3 linked regions of the Homo sapiens genome follow. The protein of the gene in region 3 interacts with the protein of the main gene of each other region in a pairwise test. Each region holds a gene or a part of one and is shown on either strand. Other genes may lie near its edges.

Evidence for each region. Proteins that work in one complex are often made in the same cells at the same time.
Region 1: the proteins of CYB5R1 (region 3) and SLC51B interact in binary tests that used the Homo sapiens proteins (3 or more experiments, as listed by UniProt).
Region 2: the proteins of CYB5R1 (region 3) and TTC1 interact in binary tests that used the Homo sapiens proteins (3 or more experiments, as listed by UniProt).

Annotation. Positions count from the first base shown.
Region 1 is NC_000015.10:65,040,589-65,048,386, reverse strand, and holds the start of SLC51B (organic solute transporter subunit beta), read right to left. Parts: upstream 3,001-7,798; 5' UTR 2,805-3,000; exon of another isoform or gene 2,674-2,804; coding exon of another isoform or gene 2,643-2,673; intron 1-2,642.
Region 2 is NC_000005.10:160,047,054-160,054,138, reverse strand, and holds part of TTC1 (tetratricopeptide repeat protein 1), read right to left. Parts: intron 4,626-7,085; coding exon 4,477-4,625; intron 3,011-4,476; coding exon 2,956-3,010; intron 1-2,955.
Region 3 is NC_000001.11:202,964,226-202,972,048, forward strand, and holds the start of CYB5R1 (NADH-cytochrome b5 reductase 1), read right to left. Parts: upstream 3,033-7,823; 5' UTR 2,981-3,032; coding exon 2,966-2,980; intron 2,674-2,965; coding exon 2,524-2,673; intron 2,376-2,523; coding exon 2,303-2,375; intron 1,769-2,302; coding exon 1,662-1,768; intron 1,276-1,661; coding exon 1,146-1,275; intron 471-1,145; coding exon 387-470; intron 1-386. UniProt on the Homo sapiens protein: NADH-cytochrome b5 reductases are involved in desaturation and elongation of fatty acids, cholesterol biosynthesis, drug metabolism, and, in erythrocyte, methemoglobin reduction.

The DNA.
Region 1 (7,798 bases), on a different chromosome or scaffold from region 3:
CATCAGAGTTTCCTCTAGCACTAAATGCTCTGAGAAAACTAAAAAGGCATATCTACAAATTGCAAGGGAAAATATTTTGACACAAATACAATACTGACTTAAGCTTTTCATATGTGAATGATCATTCATATGCCAAGGTGGAGATGGAAGTCAGGGAGAAAAAAAGACCTTTCTTAGACTTTTTTTTTTTTCTTTTTTTTTCTTTTGAGACGGAGTCTTGCTCTGTCGCCCAGGCTGGAGTGCAGTGACGTGATCTCAGCTCACTGCAACCTATGCCTCCTGGGTCCAAGCGGTTCTCGTTTGTGCCTCTGCCTCCCAAGTAGTGGGACTACAGGGCATGCCACCACGCCAGGCTAATTTTTGTATTTTTAGTAATGATGGGGTTTCCTCATGTTTCCCAGGCTGGTCTTGAACTCGTGACATCAGGTAATCCACTCGCCTCGGCCTCCCAAAATGCTAGGAATACAGGCCTGAGCCACCGTGCCTGGCCCTTTCTTAGACTTTCAAGGACTCACATGCACACTGCCTACTTACTCATTTGAGGGAGATTCTATCTATCTATCTATCTATCTATCTATCTATCTATCTATCATCTATCGATCTATCTGTCTATCTATCTATCTGCCTACCTACCCATCTAAAATCATGGAAAGACAAAGTTACAAGAATGGCCAACAGATGTGATCTTGTGTTCTAGCTCCAACTGACTGTCCAGAGCACTGTCCAAGAAGGATTGTGACATTCCATCCAGTCTCAGATGTAAGAGTGCCTGGATTGATTAGTAACATCAGCCACAGGCCCCTGTGCCATATGCAAACCCCTGAACTCACAAAGAAAAGTATTGAAGTTGAGAAACCAAACACAGTCTTCTTCTAGGGTGTGGGATGAGATTTAGACACATGGGATATTCATGTTGACCACTCCTGTATTGTGTGGTTTCTTATGCGTATACACTGCTTTCATGAGAACAATACATGTAATTCCATTTTTAATGTGTGTATATATTTCTATGTATATTTTGTCTATTTGTATGTATGTTTTTTTTTTTTTGAGATGGAGTTTTGTTTTTGCTGCCCAGGCTGGAGTGCAATGGTGTGATCTCGGCTCACTGCAACCACCGCCTCCCAGGTTCAAGAAATTCTCTTGCCTCAGCCTCCTGAGTAGCTGGGACTACAGGCATGTGCCACCACACCTGGCTAATTTTTGTATTTTTAGTAGAGATGGGATTTCACCATGTTTGCCAGGTTGGTGATCCGCCTACCTCAGCCTCCCAAAGTGCTGGGATTACAGGTGTGAGCCACTGCACCCAGCCTTTGTATGCATTTTTAAATGTAGGTATTATTGTACTTATACCTTTTGAGACAACAATTCCAATTTTTGATATTTAATTAATGGAACTAATCAGATCAGTGTACAAAGACGCAGGTAAGCTATTGTCCACAGTGGAGTGGTGTTTTTTTGTTTTTTGTTTTTTGAGACAGAGTCTGGCTCTGTCACCCAGGCTGGAGTGCAATGGCACCATCTTGGCTCACTGCAACCTCCATCTCCCGGGCACAGGCGATCCTCTCACCTCAGCCTCCTGAGCAGCTGGTACAACAGGCATGTGCCACCACGCCCGGCTAATTTTTGTATTTTTTGTAGCGATGGGGTTTCATCATCTTGCCCAGGCCAGCCTTGAACTTCTGAGTTCAAGCGACCTGCCCACCTTGTCCTCCCAAAATGCTGGGATTACAGGCATGAGCCACCGCGCCTGGCCAAAATATGTTTAAAATATGTTTAATATTGTTACAGTAAACACATACCAACCAACAAAAAACCAAAATGACAAATTGGATACAAATCCAGAACCGAGAGTCAGCCCTCCTCAGCTATGTTAGATGCCACAGAAACAAGCGACATATTTCTTTCTTTTTTTTGAGACAGAGTTTCACTCTTTTTGCCCAGGCTGGAGTGCAATGGCATGATCTCAGCTCACTGCAACCTCCACCTCCCAGGTTCAAGTGATTCTCCTGCCTCAGCCTCCCAAGTAGCTGTGATTATAGGCATCCACCACCATGCCCAGCTAATTTTGTATTTATTTATTTAGAGACAGAGTTTCACTCTTGTTGCCCAGGCTGGAGTGTAGTGGCACCATCTCAGCTCACTGCAACCTCCGCCTCCCGAGTTCAAGTGATCCTCCTGCCTCAGCTTCCTGAGTAGCTGGGATTATAGGTGCCCGCCACCACATCCAGCTAATTTTTGTATTATTAGTAGAGACAGCATTTCACCACATTGGCCAGGCTGGTCTCGGAACTCCTGACCTGAGGTGATCCATCTGCCTCGGCCTCCCAAAGTGCTGGGATTACAGGCATGAGCCACCGCACCCGGCCAATTTTGTATTTTTAGTAGAGATGGGGTTTCACCACGTTAGCCGGGGTGGTCTCGAACTCCTGACCTCAGGTGATCGGCCTGCCTCGGCCTCCAAAAGTGCTGGAATTACAGGCGTGAGCCACTGCGCCCGGCCAAAGACATATTTCTATCAAAGCACGTATCCAGTTTGCTTCTAAAGTGAGCATCATATTGTCATTTGCATGATTAAATTAAACTTTATGCCTTATTTGCATTTTGTTAGTTTTGCCTTTAATGTTCTTTTCTTGTTCCAGGATCCCATTTAGGATGTCATACTGCATTTAGTTGTCTTGTCTCCTTAAGCCCCTCTGGGAGATCTCTGCATTTTAAACAGGGCTTAACCATCGTGCCATTGGACTGTGACTTCTGCCAAAGACCTGGGCCACCCATCCCCAAGGCAAGATGAGGACACTCACCCCGGATCCTGAGTTCCTGACGACTGCCTTGATCTGCTGTTGGGAGCAGCACCGATTTCTGTATCTTCCTTTTCCTCCTCTTTATGGGAGAACAGGATAGTCTTTGCACTTGAGCTCTCCCAGGCAGTAACAGCTGTCACTTAGGGGACAGTGCCTGGAGAGCCTGCGGCAGCTGGACCCATCTGGTAGCTCTGGCCTTAGCACACGCCCAGGCCTGGAGCCTTCTGTATCACTCCAGGGTGACTGACCTCTTGAATGAGTGCACTCAGAGTGCAAACAGGCTCCACCTGACTTTCACAATCCGAAAGCACCAGTAGCCCAGTGCTTTCATTGTTATGTGTTGGCCTCAAGTAAAGAGAAAACATCCGGATCCTCTGGACAGGCAGGAGAATGGACTGCAGAGGACCTGCGGTCTGTGGGTTCCATCACTGCAGGGGGATATGTAGTGTGCCCACTCCAGGTCTCTATTGCCCAATATCATCAATATTTAACCACGGAGCAGGGAGCCAGGCTGGCCTTTTACAGCCTGTGCTTTCTCATAGTGAAGGTCATGGCATGATGTGAATTCCTCACAAGGAGCTGTAAAATATGACCTTTGGAGGTGGGGGTTGGGAAAGGCTGTGTGAGCACCAGTGACCCAGAGAGTAGGAAGCAGGCCAAGGCAAGTAACTTGATGGGGAAGCAGGAATGAGGTGCTCCTCCCACCTGACCAGCACCATTCAACTCTGATAGTCTATGGACTTTTCCACCAACTGGCTCCGTGCATCTTAGGCAATCATTGTTGGTTTAGCAAGGAGTGGGCTTATGTGAAATAAGCCCACTCCTTTTTTTTTTTTTTTTTTTTTTTTGAGATGGAGTCTCGCTGTGTCACCCAGGCTGGAGAGCAGTGGCACAATCTTGGCTCACTGCAACCTCCACCTCCCCGGTTCAAGCAATTCTCCTGCCTCAGCCTCCTGAGTAGCTGGGACTACAAGTATGTGCCATCATGCCCGGCTAATTTTTTCTATTTTTAGTAGAGATGGTGTTTCACCGTGTTAGCCAGGATAGTCTTGATCTCCTGACCTCGTGATCTGCCCACCTCAGACTCCCAAAGTGCTGGGATTACAGGCATGAGCCACCACGCCCAGCCGCCCACTCTTATTTCTTACTTCACAAATGAAACAGAGGCTGAGTGAGGTCACATGTCAAGCCCAAACTCCTCTATGAGTTAAACATTAGTCAACAGTGTGTACTGTGTGTGCATGGGGCAGAGGAAAGAAGACCCAACAGGGAATCTAGGGGCTGCCTGGAACTCCAGCTCCTCCTCATTTTGTAATGCATTCATTTATTCATTGAATAAATGTTACTTGAGCATCTACTGTGTAGATACATGGTAAATAAGACAGGTGAGGGCCCTGCTCCATTGGAGCTCAAACTCCAGGGGAGATAGCCAACAAAAAAGTAAGCAAAAGCATAATTAAAAGATAATTATAGCAGTGATCATTTCTGTGAATATCTTAAACAACATAATAAGATAGAAAGGGATGAGGTGGGGGAGACATGATTACTATATTACTACACTAAAAACTGAATGATGAGGGGTTAACCATGCAAAGACCTGAAAAAGCAGGTACAAAGGCCAGGCGTGGTGGCTCATGCCTGTAATCCCAGCACTTTGGGAGGCCAAGGCAGGTGTATCACCTGAGGTCAGGAGTTCGAGACCAGCCTGACCAACAAGGTGAAACTCCGTCTCTACTAAAAATAAAAAAATTAGCCAGGTGTGGTGGCAGGCGCCTGTAGTCCCAGCTACTCAGGAGGCTGAGACAGGAGAACTGCTTGAACCCGGGAGGCGGAGGTTGCAGTGAGCTGAGATCGCACCACTGCACTCCAGCCTGGGCAACAGAGCAAGACTTCATCTCAGAAAAAAAAAGAAAAGAAAAGAAAGCAAGCAGGTACAAAGACACTGAAGAAATAATGAGCTTAATGTGTCTGGAACAAAAAGGTGGCCAATATAGCTGAATCATAGTGATGAGGGGGAAGTGGCATGGAATAAAGTCAGAGGACAGACAGGAGTATCCACTCCTCATGGTGGGCCTTGTAAAACAGGGTAAGGAGTTTGTATTTTACCCTAAAAGTGATGAGAAGCCACTGGAGGGTTTAGGCAGGAAAGTGACATAATCTAATTGACATTTGTCTAAGATCACTTGGCCTGCTGGGTGGAAAATGGATTGTAGGAGAGCAAGAGAGGAACAGGGAGACCATTGGGAGGCTGTTATATTCATCCAGGCAAAACATATTAGTAGTTTGGACCAGGCTGGTGGCAGTGGAGATGATGAGAAGTGGTCAGATTCAGGGTGCATTTTGGAGAGAAAGGTAGTTGATAGATTTCAAGAGAGAAGCTCAACACTAACTCTCTTAAACACAAAAGGAATTTATTGGCTCATAAACTAGGAAGGGCAGGGTGGAGCTGACCTGAGGCATACGGGAACCAGGGATTTGACGACCCGTAGTGCTTTGTTTCTGTGGCTCTTTCCCTGCTTTTCTCTGGGTGCCAGGCTCATTACCCCAGGCTGGCCACCTCCGGGAAGCTTGACCAGATGATAGGAAACCCAGGCTCATGCTCTCATAGCTGCAGAGGAAGTAGCTACTTTTCTTAGCTCTTGTTTAAAAATTCTTGGAAAGGACTCTAATTGTCCAGCCTGAGTCATGTACCTATGTCTTGGATCAATTGTTATGGCTAGGGAGGGGGGTACCACTGATAGCCAACTCAGAGCTCATCATGCCTGTTGGGTAGCCAGGAGAGACAGGCTGTGAGCTGGACAGCCCATGCCATGTGGGTGCCTGAAGGAACCATTTGACCTCAATCCCCCTTGTCTGCCTCTGAGGAGTGTTGTGGTGCTCTAATGGGATGGTGTCCCCTTAACAAGGAGCCTGCACAATCCCAGGTTTTCCACTCTTCTGCTTCTGTGTCTTTTCTCTCCCTCCTCTTACCCTAGCTCTTTCTACTACGGCCTATCCAATAACTTGTTCCATGGTTGCCATGTGCCAGGCATTATGCCAGTGATAAACAGTCGAAAGGATTGTCCCTGCCCTCATGGAGACTCCAGTCTAGCAGAACAGACAGACGGGTGTTCATCATGTCATCACAACTTCTGTGTGACAAGTGCCATGAAGGAAACGTACACATGGAGATGAGAGCACATCACCAAGCCCTCCTTTCCTCACAGCATCACTATCATTCCTGGCCAATCAATCCCACCTTGAAATCTCCTCTCCTGACTTCTCCAGTCTCTTATCTCCCTACCTAGAGGATGATAGACAGTCAGCAGTGTAGTGGAGTGGAAAGGGCTTTTGGTTTTCCTCTGCTATTCTGGTATCTGCCACCTGCTAACCCTTCAAGCCTCAGCTTAAATGTCATCTTCTTAGGGAGGCCTTCCATATCAGTTGAGAATTGTGTTTGGCTCTGGGTAACAAAGACCCAATGTCAGTGGTTTAAACCATAAGAGTTTATTTTCTCATAGAAGAATGTCAGAAGTAGCCAGTTATTAATGTCGTAAGACCAAGGAAATCAGGGCTGAGGTTTCTAAGACTCCCTCATGGCCCCTAGATGGCTGATGCAGCTCCTGCCATTATATCCAAGTTCCAAGCAGAAAAAAAAGCAAAAGGGAAGAAGGACAAAAAGGTGTGACCATGCTCTATAGTAAACGAATAACCTATCTGAGAGTAAACTCAGATAATACAGAGAACTAAGGTCAAGGGAGTTATTCCCAGAAAACAGTAGCAAGGGCAGCCAGGTGGGCTAACCAAAGAACTTACTCTACTGCCAGGGTGGAGGTCTTCACAGCTCATGCCCAGCAGGATTTGATAACTGTCATGGGCCTGTGCTGCTGTGTGGACTGTAGCACAGCCTGCTAATTTCCCCCTAGATTACATTCTTCCCTTCTTCCTTTTAATAAGAGAATCCTCTAAATTTTAGAGGCATATGGCCACCCAACTGGAAACTGCAGTTCCCAGGCCAGGCGTGGTGGTTCATGCCTATAATCCCAGCACTTTGGGAGGCCGAGGTGGTCGGATCACGAGGTCAGGAGTTCAAGACCAGCCTGGCCAACATGGTGATACCCCATCTCTCCTAAAAATACAAATTAGCCAGGCATGGTGGCGTGCACCTGTAATCCCAGCTACTCAGGAGGCTGAGGCAGGAGAATCGCTTGAACCTGGGAGGTGGCGTGAGCTGAGATCACGCCATTGTACTCCAGCCTGGGTGACAGAGCAAGACTCCATCTTAAAATAAATAAATAAATTAATTAATTAAAAAAATTAATGAACCTGCATTTCCCAGATTCCCTGCAGTCATAAGTGGTCCTCTAAGTTTTGGCCGAAAGAGACCTGAGAAGTGATTGCAACTTCAGAATCACTATTTTTTTTTTTTTGAAATTTATACAAACTTTTTTTTGTTGGAGTATACATATAGGAAAGTACACAAATGGTAAGCTTAGTGAATTTTCACATGTGGACACACTCATGCATGGGAACATATGCCATCCAGATCAACAAATAAAACAATTGCACCATTGCATCCTGTACTCCAGCCTAAGCAACAGAGTAAGACCCTGTCTCTAAAAGAAAAAAAGAAAAAGAAATAGAACATTTCCAGATCTCAGAAGTCTTCTCTTGTCACTATCCCTTACAAAGGCAACCTGACTTTTAATACCATAGATTAATTTTGTCTGTTTTTATACTTTATATAAATGTAATCAATCAATATGCAATCTTTTGTGTCAGCTTCTTTTGCTCTACATTATACTTGTGAGATTCATCCGCGTTGTGTGTAGTTGTGGTTCATTCATTCTTGTTGTAGCGTAGTATTCTATTGTGTGACTATGCTGCACTATTTCTACCTGTGGATCATGTTTTTGTGAGAAAATTCAACCCCTCCACTTCCTCATTCCTCTTTCTGGAACACAGATATGATGGTGGAAAGGACATGTCAGGACAGGGGTTGTTAACCTATGGGC
Region 2 (7,085 bases), on a different chromosome or scaffold from region 3:
TATTATGGCTGGGAGGCTAATTATCCCAGAGAAAAGGACCAAACAAACAAACAAACAAACAAAAACAACCAACCCCCACTCCAGCTGCTGACCACTTTCCTCAAGTGATCGTCTTGATGCTATCACGATCATCTTCTGTGATCAGCAAGGACTGTGCCACTAGGACTAATGGCCACCCTGGGTCTCTTGTTCTAAAGATTATAAATGATGGGCTAGAAAGGGCAAAGCAAATAATTGTTCTACCCACTAATAATTCCTATCAGGATTTTTTCCCTCAAGGAGTACATAGCTCTTCTTTCTAATGAAAAGGAAATTACAGAGATGGAAGAAAAAACAAGTTAAAGAATACTGAACACATCTAAATAAAAACCCATTTTGTACTACTCAAGGTGATCCACAGATTCAATGTAATCCCTGTCAAAACACCAATGACATTCTTCACAGAAATAGAAAAATCCTAAAATTTGTATGGAACCACAAAAGACTCTGAAAGCTAAAGTGATCCTGAATAAAAAGAACAAAAGCTACAGGCATAGGCATCACACTACCTGATTTTATAATTTTCTTTTTTTTTAAAGACAAGGTCTCACTCTGTCACCCAGGCTTGAGTGCAGTGGCATCATTGTGGCTCACTGAAGTCTCGATCTCCTGGGCTCAAGTGATCCTCCCACAGCAGCCTCCTAAGTAGCTGGGACTACAGGTGCACACCAGCACACCTGGCTAATTTTTTTAGTGACAGGATTTTGCCATGTTGCCCAGGCTGGTCTTGAACTCGGGCTCAGCCTCCCAAATTGCTGGGATTACAGGTGTGAGCCACCACACCCAGCCCACACTACCCAATTTAAAAAATTTTTAACTGCTTATTCTCCATAGAAGCCATCATTTTAACAGGAACTAGCATAAAGATGATGCAGTCCACTGTGAAAAGCTTGCTCAGAACTTCTAAGTGATATTAATTTGCATTCAGAATGTCTAGCCTCTAGGGAATCTCACAGAACATGAACCAAAGTTACCTCATCAGCAACAAGGAGGAAGGAATACCAGAAAAGCTCTTGTGGGGGCTGAAATTCCATGTAAAGAGTGATTTCTCTCTTCTAGGTTATCTATTGTGGGGTAACACCTAGAGCAGTATCTTATTCATGATTTTTATACTCATTAAGGGAAAAAAGGAATCTAGCCATTCAAACTACACATGTGTAACAACACATATTATTTACAAAGCAACTTAAGTTGGTTAAGTCTAATGGCAGGTGAATTCATTTTAGAAGCAACCGAGGGAATGAATTCAATTTGAATTTTTTCAAATGAAGAGAATGACATAAGAAAAACCCAAAGCCTTGGAGACAGAAAATTCTGGTGCATTAGAATTTATAAAGACAAGGACAAATGGAAGTTTTAATTCCATCTGGAACTAACAATAGGCAGTAAGATTCAGTTTGCACCAGTCCCTTTACTGGACTGGCTTTAAAAAAATGGACTAAGAGACCAATGCCTTCCAGATCCACTATGGCCATTCACAAGGTCATCTTTTTTAGCAAGAAATTCAAATACTAAATGCAAACAGTTTTTTTTTTTTTTTTTTTTTTTTTTGCTAAAATAGAGCATCATTGTTAGTAAAAATAGGTGAGAAAATGCTCTTTTCCCTCTTCTTTGAGACAGGGTCATGCTCTGTTGCCCAGTCTGGAGTGTGGTGGCACCATCATAGCTCACTGCAGCCTCTAACCCTTGGGCTCAAGTGATCCTCCCATGTAGCTGGGACTATGGGCAGGCACATGCCACCATGCCTGACTAATTTTTTGTGGAGATGGGGTTTCACCATGTTGCCTAGGCTGGCCTTGAACTCCTGGGCTCAAGCAATCCTCCTACCTTGGCCTCCTAAAGTGCTGGGATTACAGGAGCCACCGTGCCTGGCCAAGTTTAATTAAATATGTAAATTAGGGGAAAAGCTCCCCCATCCCCCTCCCTTTTTTGGAAAATCTGGGGAAGGCTCCAGAGCTATCCTGAATCGGAAGCAGCCGTCTTTACAGTCTGAGTCTACCCGGCAGGGGCCAAAGTCTCTGGATAGTCTAGGTTAATGGCCTCCTCTCAATCAACTTGGCTATCAGAATGATCCTTTGGGAAATTTGTTCCCATTGTCTGGATGCTGATGTCTGAAGGCCATAAATGCCAGACAGGCTCAATTTATTTTAAATGATTTTTCCTTTAGGGCCACATGATTGCAGTTTATAAAATGTAATTCAAACAACAGATTTAGAAAATACTCAAAAAGGAAAATACATGGCAGATCTTCACCAGCGAAATATCAGACAGGTTACATGTGGAAAAGACTTAAGTCTGTGTTCAGGAACCCTCACTCCTCTTACTTAAGCAGATTGCTCGTGGGAGGTTCCAACTCTAAAATGCTTTGGCAAATATGAGAAATAACTAAACATGGATCAAATGAATCCATTTGCCCTACCCCTACCCCCAGTCTGATTTCTCTTTACTCCTAATTCCTGCCCTCTCGTGTGTTCTCAAACACTAAAGGGACTTTGAGTGCCATTTTCTAAATAAAAATTCTCATGATCTTGACTGCATCCTAATGAACCTCAAGGAATGATTATTCAATGAAGAAACTAAACTGTTTTTATGTAATTGTTATCTGAAATCGAGGTTGGTGGTATCCTAGGATTTTAAATCCCATTTAAGCATAATCCCAGGGAACTGAATTATGCTTAAATTCTTGCAGGCAAGAAAAATTTCCAAGAAAATCAAAAAGGAAATCTGGTTTCCAAAAAAAGCCAATACCCTCTCTAAGCCACGCTGCCCCTTCTGGGGTCAAAATAACTCAGAAGTCAGTAGCCTTGTGGTAGAGTCCGAAACTTTCTAACTCATGTGTTCTCCTCTAGTATTCGCTATGTCCCCACCCTAGGTTCCTAGCTGTTTATGATCAAGCAAAGTAAGAAGTAAGCTTACCTAACATCTCTTCTTTTAGTCTTTCATTACGTTCTTCAATTTGCTTAGGTAATCTCTGAGGAAAAGAGGAGAAACAAGGGTTGGTAAAAAAAAAAAAAAAACCAAAACCTTTCCCTTTATTTTGAATTTGAGAAACACAAGAATCCTAATGTGGAAATAAGATCAAGTTAAGTATGTCTATGATCCTATTAAATAAAAAAAAAAAACCCCAAGTATTTATGTTTGTGGTGCGCTACATAAAGACAAAAGTTCTGTTTGGGCCAGGTGCAGTGACTCCTGCCCATATTCCCAGCACTTTTGGAGGCCGAGTTGGGAGGATCGCTTGAGCTCAGGAGTTTGAGACCACCTTGGGCAACATGGCAAAATGCTGTCTCTACAAGAAATACAAAAATTAGCTGGGTGTGTTGGCATGTGTCTGTAGTCGCAGCTACTCAGGAGGCTGAGGTGGGAGGGTTGCTTGAATCTGGGAGGTTGAGGGTGCAGTATGCCATGACTGTGCCACTGCTCTCCAGCCTGGGAGTCAGAGACCCTTTCTCAAAAAAAAAAAAAAAAAAAAGTTTTGTTTGGCTCTGTTTCCAGTTCTTAATAGAAAGTCTACACTAAAGGAGGGCATCAATACAAATTTAACAAATAAATATATACAGAAAAAAGTTTGAAAGGATACATATCAGATGTTTACAGTGCTATATTTGTATTTTTAACTTTTTTTTAAATTCATTTGTATTTTTTGTTTTTTTAAGACAGAGTCTCACACTGTCGCCCAGACTGGAGTGCAGTGGCGCAATCTCAGCTCACTGCAACCTCCACCTCCTGGGTTCAAGCGATTCTCCTGCCTCAGCCTCTCGAGTAGCTGGGATTACAGGCATGTGCCACCACACCCAGCTAATTTTGTATTTTTAGTAGAGACAGGGTTTCTCCATGTTGGTCAGGCTGGTCTCGAACTCCCGACCTCAGGTGATCCGCCCTCCTCGGCCTCCCAAAGTGCTGGGAGTACAGGCGTGAGCCACTGCACCCAGCCTGTTGGTTTGTTTTTAAGATACAAAGTCTTACTCTGTTGCCCATGATGGAATGCAGTGATGTAGTCACAGCTCACTGCAGCCTCCAACTCCTGGGCTCAATGATCCTCTCTGTTGCCCAGGCTGCAGTGTAGTGGCATGATCTCAGCTCACTGCAACCTCTGCCTTCTGGGTTCAAGCAATTCTCCTGCCTCCCGAGTAGCTAGGATTACAGATGTGTACGACCACACCCGGCTAATTTTTTGTATTTTTAGAAGAGATGGGGTTTTGTTGTGTTGGCCAGGCTGGTCTCGAGCTCCTGGCCTCAAGTGATCTCTCCTCCTTGGCCTCCTAAAGTGCTGGGATTACAGGCAAGAGCCACTGCGCCTGGCCTCCCATATATCTTGATAAGCTCCTCAAAAGCACAGAAATGGAATTTAATTGTGTCTGAAAGGATTATTTAGGACTCACTGGGTAGCAACACAAAGAATAGAAGGAAAAATATTTTTAAAATTTTAGGTTTTACCATACAAGCTTCTCTTGCTTGATGTATTGATGGATCTTTTTCTAATATAGATTTATAGTCTTCCAGGGCTTCATCTAGCTTGTCCGTCTTCTCATACAACTCTGCTCTCCTCAATATTGCCCTGATATAGCTGGGGTTTAATTGAATTGCTGTAAAAAGAGAAGAAATAATTTTTATCACAAAGAAAAATGGCCTACATATCTTTGGCTATATCAGATTCCTTCATCAATCATCCTCCAAGGATACGAAAGGAAGAGTCATTTGCCAAGTGTATACCTGATGCTGGAAAACTTTTTCTATAAAGAGCAAGATAGTAAAGATTGTAGGCTTTGTGGGTCAGACAGACCATCTGTGTCGCAGCTCCTCAATGATACTATTGTAGCACGAGAGCAGGCACAGATAATATGTAAACAAAAAAGGATAGGTGTGTTCCAATAAACTATTTATGGACACTAAAATTTAAGTTCACATAATTTTCACATTATCATGAAATATTTTGCTTTCCAATGATTTAAAACTGTAAAAACCATTCTTAGCTTTTAGGCTATCAAAAACAGGTGGCAGGCTGGATTTGGCTTGTGGCTGTAGTTTGCCATATCCTGGTCTATACTCCAAGTCCTGGTTTTTGCCTACTTGTCATTTACCCAGTCCAGGACAGGCCAGAACAGAGTTCAAGTGCGCAGTGAAAGAGTGAGAGAGAATTTTTTTTTTTTAGACGGAGTCTCGCTCTGTCACCCAGGCTGGAGTGCAGTGGTGTGATCTTGGCTCACTACAACCACCTCCTCCCAGGTTCAAGCGATTCTCCTACCTCAGCCTCCCACGTAGCTGGGATTACAGGCATGCGCCACCATGCCCGGCTAATTTTTGTATTTTTAGTAGAGATGGGGTTTCATTATGTTGGCCAGGCTAGGTGAGAGAGAATTTGAAGATACAAATTAAAGAGTTAAGGGAAACCAATCTGGTGGCAGACTATCATTCTCTTTTTTCTAGGTCTTGAGTACTAAGATTATATTTCTAGTTAAATCCTCACTGTTCCTTCAACCCTCAAACTACTGCTCCAGCACTATGAGGTGGTTGATGCATAATATCTTTTCCTTTATCCAGCATCAGCTGCCCTTCTAATAATCCTTTGCTATGTTTTGGTTCAACATACTGCATTTCTTCTAATTTCTTCCAAGTTGTTTCTTTTTCTATTAGAAAGCAGTGCTGGCCGGGTGTGGTGGCTCAGGCCCATAATCCCAGCACTTTGGGAGGCCGAGGCAGGCAGGTCAATTGGGGTCAGGACTTTGAGACCGTCAGCCTAGCCAACATGGCGAAACCCCATCACTACTAAAAATACAAAAATTAGCTGGGCGTGGCAGTGTGGGTCTATAATCCCAGCTATTTGGGTGGTTTAGGCATAAGAATCACTTGAACCCAGGAGGCGGAGGTTGCGTGCAGTGAGTGGCGATTGCATCACTGTACTCCAGCCCGGGCAACAGAGAGATAATACTCTGTCCCAAAAAAAAAAAAAAAAAAAAAAAAAAAAAAAAAAAAGCAATGTCTTGGCTCTAGAACTTTTTTCTTTTCTCATAATCTATCCTTAATTTTTAAATTCATGCTTTCTGTGAACATTTATTTAGTACTTAATATATACGTCCAATGTAGTATGTCTCTGGGCTATAGTGGGAAACAAGACAGACACAGTCCTTGTTCTCATGAAGCCTTATGCTATTCTAGTAGGCAAGAACAGACAGGTATATAATTTCAATAGCCATAGTACTATAATGAAAAATAAAACAAGGTCATGGAAATACAAGTGAAGCGAGAAATGAGGTAACTTCAGAAAGTGGTCTCAGAATATGAAGAGGGACTATGTGAGAGAGGCCAGCCATGTGAAAGGCTAAGGAGGAGCGTGCCAGGAAGAGGGACCAACAAGAATAACTCTGGCATGTGAGTTATCAGGCTGGGGATCAGAGGCTGAAATGTAGGGCCATGGAGGACCTTCCTGGCCAGGGAAAGGAGTTTGGACTTTTTCCTCAGTGTGATGAGAAGCCACTGGAAAGTTTTCAAGCAAGCTTCAGACATACTCTGATTTACATTTTTGAAGGACTGCTTTGGCTGTAGTGTTGGCGGGTGGGGCAAGACTGAAAGCTGTGAGATCAGCTGGAAAGCTAATGCAGTGGTCCAGATGAGAGAAGATGTTGGCTTGGTCTAAGCTGGAAGTAGTAGAGATGGAAAACAGCAGCCGGATTACATTAAATATGTCTTTAAATTTGAGCCCATGGAACTTGCTAATTAATCAATTAGCCATGTGACACGAAAGAACAATCAGGGATGACTCCAAAGGTTTAACTTAAGCAAGGGGACAGATGGTAATGTCATTTATTAGAATGGAAAAAACTAACTGCAAGTTTTGTGTGTGTGTGGGGGCTGGGCACGTTAAATCTGAGGTGCCTACCAGACATCCAAGAAGAAAGAACTTTGCAGTGGGATACAGGACACTAGACTACAGGGTAGAAGTCAGAGTTGAAGACAGAAACTCTGCCATACACATGGCATGTATTTATTAGTTTTATATTTTAAAATTCATGAATTTTGGCTTTTATCTTTATGAAAATACTCCTTTT
Region 3 (7,823 bases):
ATATGTGTCTAATTTTTGTGTCTAATATATAGTAGTGTATTAGACTACACAGTGTCTAATGCACAGTAGTGTCCAATGCTAATTTTCTTTCTTCCTAGCTAGTCATTCCTAGCTGCTTCTCTCTTCTCTCACCTAAAACTATTAGATCCATTCAAAATGAGGAAAGCTCATTTAATTTGTTTCTCTAATTCCATCAGTTAAAATTTTTTTTGGTTTCTACCTGCTTATGATTTTGTTTTTCAGATACTAGGGAGTTCTAAGCATTGCTGGAAATCCCCTGATGAACAACAGCTTGGCTATGGTTACCAGTCTTCAGAGGGTCACCTAGGAATTTGCATGGCAACAGTCAACAATGGTGGGAGAGAAAGGCCCTCAGTGTAATGCACCTGTCCCGCCGGCAATCATTCCCAGTTTCTTCGCCACTCGGGGTTCTGGTGGAGATTTCTTGTTGGGCTGAATGTTAAAATGCCCTGAGAGGTCAGGTGAAGAGAGCAGTGGAAGAATAAAGTCAATACAGCGAACTTAGAAAACAAATGCAGAGTTGAAAATATGCCTGAGGCCAGTTGAGCAGCTGCTATGACATCTGATCCTGGAGCTTGGGTGGAAGCTTGAGTTGAGCCAGCCCTGACAATAATATAGTTGAGGGACAATGGGGCCAGGGCTATCTGTGAGTCAGTTCAGCGCCACACAATGTATCAGCTGCTTCTGGCAAAGTGTCACTCCCTGGTGAAGGAGACAGGCACAGAGCCAGGTGTGAATCTATTTTCCCAAGTGGCACACAGCAGCTCCAGGGACTTGCTAATGCACCCAGCTGTTCCCATGGGAAGGGCTGAAAGCTATCTCTGGCTCACTCCACAGCTCACCCAGGGGGGCAAATTTTTGAAGGTGGGGAAGAGGGGCACATGTTTGCTTTAGTAATCTCCACAGCTGCCATGGCTAGGGAATTCAAGTGGAGGAGGAACTGCTTCCTGTGGCAAATGGGGCTGAGAAACATGCCTTTCTATTGTATCAGCGCTATGTTTAGAAGGAAGGGCGGCCCTGGCCCTTACGTGCATACACATGTGTACACACAGCCATACTGTGCCAAGAGGACTATGGGAACTGATAAAGTGGGAGACAGGCTCAAGGAGAAGACAGGTCATTACCTTTTCCAGTGTAAGTGAGCAACCCGCTTGGCCCCCGAAACTCCACCACATCCCCAACCTTCAGGCTATCCAGGTACTGAGACATCTTCCCTCCCTCAGGAAATTTGGGGTGCACACCCTTCAGGTAGACCTTACAAGACAGAGAGAAAAATACCTTATTTGGAATGTCACTGGTTTCTGAGCCCCATGTTGACTAAACCTCCCTGAGGCTGGGGCAGGGATCAGATATGTGCTATCTTTTCCCCGTCTACATACTTTCTTTCTTTCTTTTTTTTTTTTGAGTCAGAGTTTTGCTCTTGCTGCCCAGGCTTGAGTGCAGTGGCGCAATCTTGGCTCACTGCAACCTCCGCCTCCTGGGTTCAAGTGAGTCTCCTGCCTCAGTCTCCTGAGTAGCTCATACTTTCTTCACATCCACAGAGTACATACCATTTCCTGCTGTCAGGCAAATCTTAGAAATTTCTACAAATCCCAGAAAGAATGGGTAAGCAGCCCCTGGGTCCCTTCCTAGCCCCTTACCTTGATGACAAGATCCACATAGCCTTGATCCTCATCACTGGTGACAGGAGTGTATGGCCTGATGACCAGGCTGCCATCAATTCGGGTGGAGAGGTAGATATGTTTGCCTGGGGACCGTGCAGAGAGCTACATAAGGGTTGTCTGTGATGTGCTGCATCCCTCAAAATACTCAAAGAGATTTGAGAGAACAAGATGTCTTGCTTCCTGCTGTGGTCCCAAGGAGCTACAAGGCAGGGAAGATTTGCCCCATTGAGCCCTCAGTTGGATCTCTTATAAGCGCCCAGTTGAGGAAACACTTATTTCCAGCGTTTCCTGCCAGTTACTGCCAGGACCTTGACAGATGAGCCAAAAGGGTCTGGGCAATGGGAAAAAGTTAGTAGTGCTTGCTCAGAGGGAGTAATTAGCAAATCCTGCAGGGAAGAGGCAAGACTGTTGAGTGTTAAAGCTGGATGGGGGTCATGGAAGCCACACTCTAGAGGGGCCCAGTGGCACCTCACAGCTTGGAGGATGCAGAGCCAAGTGGGGGAAGGGGAATGGTGTGTGGAGCAAACCGGTTGAAGCAGCGTGTTTCATGAGATCCCAGGAGGGGAGTCACCTTCTGAGGATACCAGGGAAAGGAGCCCATTCCACACTTTCCTTACCCACAGGCAGCCCCAGAGTGTGGTGGGCGGTGGGCAGGGCAAAGCGGAACCTCTTGGTGTTGTGGCTCACAGTCTGGAGGGTGGAGGACACAAGTGTTTCACCAAGCGCGCCTGGCGCTGCCACGTCCCTTGGACATCCCAACCACCGTGGGTGCTGTACCCTCCATGCCAGGAGCACTCTGGTCCCCTCCTTCACCCTGGCCCTTTCTTCCCCAACTTACCGTCTTGTCTAGCAGTCGTAGCAGGTACTTTTCATTGGGGTCCAGGAGAGTGACCTGAGGCCGGCGGGACCTCCGAACCAAGTAGGAGCCCACAGCCAGGCCGAGCAGAGTGACCAGCCCCACCCCCAGGGAGGCCAGCAGGACGGGGCTCTGTGGGTAGAGGAGGCAGCGTGACCGCCAGGCTGGGTAAGAGCCCGGGGCTTGGGTGGTGACCGTCCCAGGGGTGGCGATCCCGAGCTCCAGCGCGGAGGCATGCCAAGGGCAGAGGGGTAACCTGGCGGAGTCCCGAGCCCGGATGTGCGGGATCGGGACCCCAGCATCCACGGTGGGCCCAGAGCCCTGCGGGGCGGGGTCGGCAGCGACAGCCCCTGGTCCGGAGCTGAGTGGCCAGAACCAGATGGGGAGGGGTCCCCCAGTGGAGGATACTGAATGAGGGTCTTACCGTCTGGATCCCCATGACGGAGCGCCTTTTCCTCCACCACCTGACAAGCCGACAGATCCCACAATGCGCCGCGGGGCGGGTCGGAGGGCGGGGCAGGCCGGGGGCGGGGCCGGGCAGGAGGCAGGACCTCGCGGCTGGGGGGGCAGGAGGCGGGGCCTGGCGGGGGGGGGGGGGGGTGTCTGTCGGGGGCGGGGCCTAGCAGGAGGTGGCGGCGGCGGGGCCTTTTGGGGGCGGGGTCCGGCAGAGGCGGGGCTGGGCCCCTCTGCGCGCCACCCTTTCCCTCCGCTACTCGGTGGCTCAGGGTCTCCGGTGCTTATTCAATACTTTTTTTTTTTTTTTTGAGTCGGAGCCTCGCTCTGTCGCCCAGGCTGGAGTGCAGTGGCGCGATCTCGGTTACTGCAACCTCCGCCTCCCAGTTTCAAGTGGTTCTCCTGGCTCCGCCTCCCGAGTATCTGGGACTACTGGCGTGCGCCACCACGCCCGGCTAATTTTTTTTTTGTATTTTTAGTACAGACTGGGTTTCACCGTGTTGGTCAGGGTGGTCTCGAGCTCCAGGGCTCAAATAATCTACCCGCTTCGGCCTCCCAACGTGTTGGGATTACAGGCGTGAGCCATCGCGCCCGGCCCCAAGATCTTTTAAGACCGCAGCTCCAGCCTCTCCTCCCAGCGAGGTGGTCCCTGCCACTTCGACCCGCTTATATCCGAACTGGATGGGAGTTCTGCCTAAGGTAGAACCACGCTAAATTGGGGGATTGGAAATCTCTTGAGTCTGCGGGTGCTGAGCGGAGAGTGTAACGATGAACCAGAGACAGGCTCAAAGTAGAGCAGAAGGGCCTGAAGTTAATCATTGTGCAGTCACCTTAGTTTTTCAACCGGCTGAATTGCAGCAAGAGAATGGAACAGCCCAGAGGAGTCTCTTACAGGAGTGAACAGTGGCATGGCAACTTCATTTCCTTTTGACAAAAGACTGATTTTGTTTACAGCGCCAAGCCGTCAGCCTATCAGGATGATTCAGGAGCTTCCTTTGGTTTCAAAGACCAAGCTTCACATCCTGATTTGGGTTCTTGTGCCCTTAGGGTCAAAGAAGTGGGCTTTGGAGGCAGAGTGTACAGAATAAGAATCTTGCCTCTAGCACTTATTGGCTCTGTGACCTTAGATAGCTTACTCAACCTGAGTTTCTTCATCTACAGATGGATATAAGATGGATATCTACAGATGGATATATATTATTATCTACAGATAGATTGTATCTAGTTCATAGCTTTGGTGTGAGGCTTCAGTGAGATATGTTAACGTGCTTAGTGTAGTGCCTGTCATAAAGCAAAATATTCAACAGTTGGCAGCTACTATTATAACTTAAAAGACAGCACAGAGGGTCAGCTATGGTTTTAGGAATGAGCTCTGCCTGGGGCACAAGCATGGGACAGGAGGAGGCAGGAAAAAACATCAGGAGCCGCTGGAGCTACAGATTTCCCAAGATGACCATTCTTTCTCATACATGAGTTTCTCAACTAGAATGACATTTGCTCTTTGATATACCGTGATGGATGAGATCTCTGCAGATGTCAGTGTCAACATCTTAAACTAATACCATCAGGGCAGCAGGGACATTAGAGCCCCCAGTTTTCAGTTGTATTTGGTGAACTCTGTGAATGATCCAAGAGATACTTAGTTTTCCTTTTCCTCTCCACTGGCTGAAAATGTTCCTAAGACCCCAGTACATGTTCCTCTGAATTTTTTAAGCAGCCTGCACACTGACTTGAGGGAAGTGAGTGCACCAGATCATGGTGACATGCCAATCCATGCAGAGAGGGTTGAAAAGGGGAAGGAAGGGACCCTTCCTCTTTTCTGTTCCGAGAGAATGAGGCGATTATGTTCCGGTGCTTCTGACATCCCCACTGCTGGCTTGGTTAAGAAGCCACACTACTGATCCTTGCCACTGCTCCACTCTGGCTAAAGAGGTTCTAGGCCTTCCTCCCTCTAGTGGATAGATGTGGCAAGAGAGGGGGAAGTATGGAACGAAAGGAGAGCATAACTACAACTCGGGCTTCTCTCAGTGATTGCATTTTCTGAACCCCAAAGTGGCACATTCTAACAAGTGTGAGTGTATCACTGGGAACCACAGGACAGAATGGTTGGGTGTGGGCTTATCCTGGAAACTAAGTGTTGGACTCAGTAATTGTGGGAAGGCTCTTTTGCTCCTGAAAATGAATGCTGCAGGAGTGGTGGGAAGGGGCTGATGGCCTGGCAGGTCTTCCTGTCTCAGATTCTGTGGTGAATTGAACTCCACTCCACCACGACTCATGGTAATCTTACATTACTCCTAGTTTGGAGGAAAAGATAGGCATTTCTGAATTTTTATTTAACCCAATCTTTTAAGTTTAGGATTTCCTCCTGGGTATACAATAAAGAATAGAACAGGCTGGGTTCACGCCTGTAATCCCATCACTTTGGGAGGCTGGATGGATCACTTGAGCCCAGGAGTTTGAGACCAGCCTGGGCAACATGGCAAAATCCTGTCTTTACAAAAATACAAAAATTAGCCAAGTGCGATGGCGCTGGCCTGTAGTCCTAGATACTAAGGAGGCTGAGGTGGGGGTATTGCTTGAGCCTGGGAGATCAACGCTGCAGTGAGCCATGATTGCGCCACTGCACTCCAGCCTGGGCAATAGAGCAAGACCCTGTTTAAAAAAATATATATATATAATGTAGTGTGAGGGGGAAGTAGAATTTCAAACCTGTGTTTTATAATTCTGAATTAGGATGTAAAACTCAGTGGCCCTTTTTAGATAAGATATCCAGAAAGAAGCTTGGAGGAAGACTTGCTCATACTGAGGAGATGGCATGGAGGAATCAGACCAGGAGATGTAATAATGACAAAAAAATTAACATTTATTGAGCATGTGCAATATAGCAAGAACTAGGTAAATTGCTTTTCACGTATTCTGACAACATCCATTTAATCCTGACAACAACTGTGAGATAGATATTATCATTAGTAGTCTCATTTTATGGAGTGGGGGGAAACTGAAGTTTAGGACAAGTAAGTCACTTGCCCAAGATCACCTACTAAATGGCAAACTCAGACTGCATACCAGGCAGCTTGATGTTGAAAACTAACAACCTCACACCCTTTTTGAACTTTTCTTTTTTTTTTGAGACGGAGTCTTGCTCTGTCACCCAGGCTGGAGTGCAGTGGCGCAATCTCGACTCACTGCAACCTCTGCCTCCCAGGTTCAAGTGATTCTTCTGCCTCAGCCTCCTGAGTAGCTGGGATTACAGGCATGCGCCACCATCCCCGGCTAATTTTTGTACTTTTAGTAGAGACGAGGTTTCACCATGTTGGCCAGGCTGGTCTCAAACTCCTAACTTCGTGATCCGCCTGCCTCAGCCTCCCAAAGTGCTGGGATTACAGGCGTAAGCCACCGTGCCTGGCTGAACTTTTTAGTATGGAAACTATCAAACATATACAAAAGTAGACAGAACAGTATAATAAAGCCCGACGTACCCATCACCCTCTTCAACAATTATTAAATCATGGTCACCTTTCTTTCATTTCTTCCCCAGTCCGTTCCTTCCTCCAGTATTATTTTTAAGCAAATCCCATATTTTTTATAACTTTGTCCTTAAATATTTTAGTGTGTATCTTTAAAAGCTAAGGACTTAAAAATAACCATAATACCATTATCACATGTAAAAATAATTAACAACAATTACTTAGTTTCATCAGATAGCTAGTCAGTGTTCAAAGTTCCACCTGTCTCTTTTTTTTTTTTTTTTTTTTGAGATGGAGTCTCACTCTGTCGCCTAGGCTGGAGTGCAGTGGCATGATCTTGGCTCACTACCAGCTCCACCTCCCAGGTTCACGCCATTCTCCTGCCTCAGCCTCCCGAGTAGCTGGGACTACAGGCGCCCGCCACCACGCCTGGCTAATTTTTTGTATTTTTAGTAGAGACGGGGTTTCACTGTGTTAGCCAGGATAGTCTCAATCTCCTGACCTTGTGATCCATCCTCCTCGGCCTCCCAAAGTGCTGGGATTACAGGGATGAGCCGCCGTGCCCGGCCTTTTTTTTTTTTTTTTTTTTTTGAGATGGAGTCTCACTCTGTCACCCAGGCTGGAGTGCAGTGGCACGATCTCGGCTCACTGCAACCTCTGCCTCCCGGGTTCAAGAGATTCTCCTGCCTCAGCCTCCTGAGTAGCTGGGATTATAGGCGACTTCCACAGCGCCCGCCATGGCGCCTGGCTAATTTTTGTATTTTTAGTAGAGAAGGGGTTTCACCATCTTGGCCAGACTGTTCTTGAACTCCTGACATTGTGATCCACCCGGCTCGGCCTCCCAAAGTGCTGGAATTACAGGCATGAGCCACTGCGCCTGGCCCCAGCTGTCTCATTTTAAATTTGTAATTGTCATACATTAAAATAGACTCTTGGGCATACAGTTCTGTGAATTCTAGAATATGTATAGATTTGTGGCACCACTATAATCAGGAAATAGACCAGTTTGATCACCCTGCAAATCTCCCATATGCTATCCCTTTATGGCCACATCCTCCCCTTACCTTTAACTCCTGGTTATCACTGATGTGTTCCCTGTCAATACACTTTTGCCTCTTTATGAATGTCACATAAATAAAGTCTATACAATATGTAAGCTTTTGAGTGGATTTCTTTCACTCAGCATAGTTTGAGATTCATCCAAGTTATCATGTGTATTTACAGTCCATTCTTTTCATTGCTAGTAGTATTCTGTTGTATGGCTGTATCATAATTTGTTTATCCATTCATCAGCTGAAGGACATTTGAGTTATTTCCAATTTTTGGTGATGATTGAAATTGCTTTAAACATTCATGTGCAGA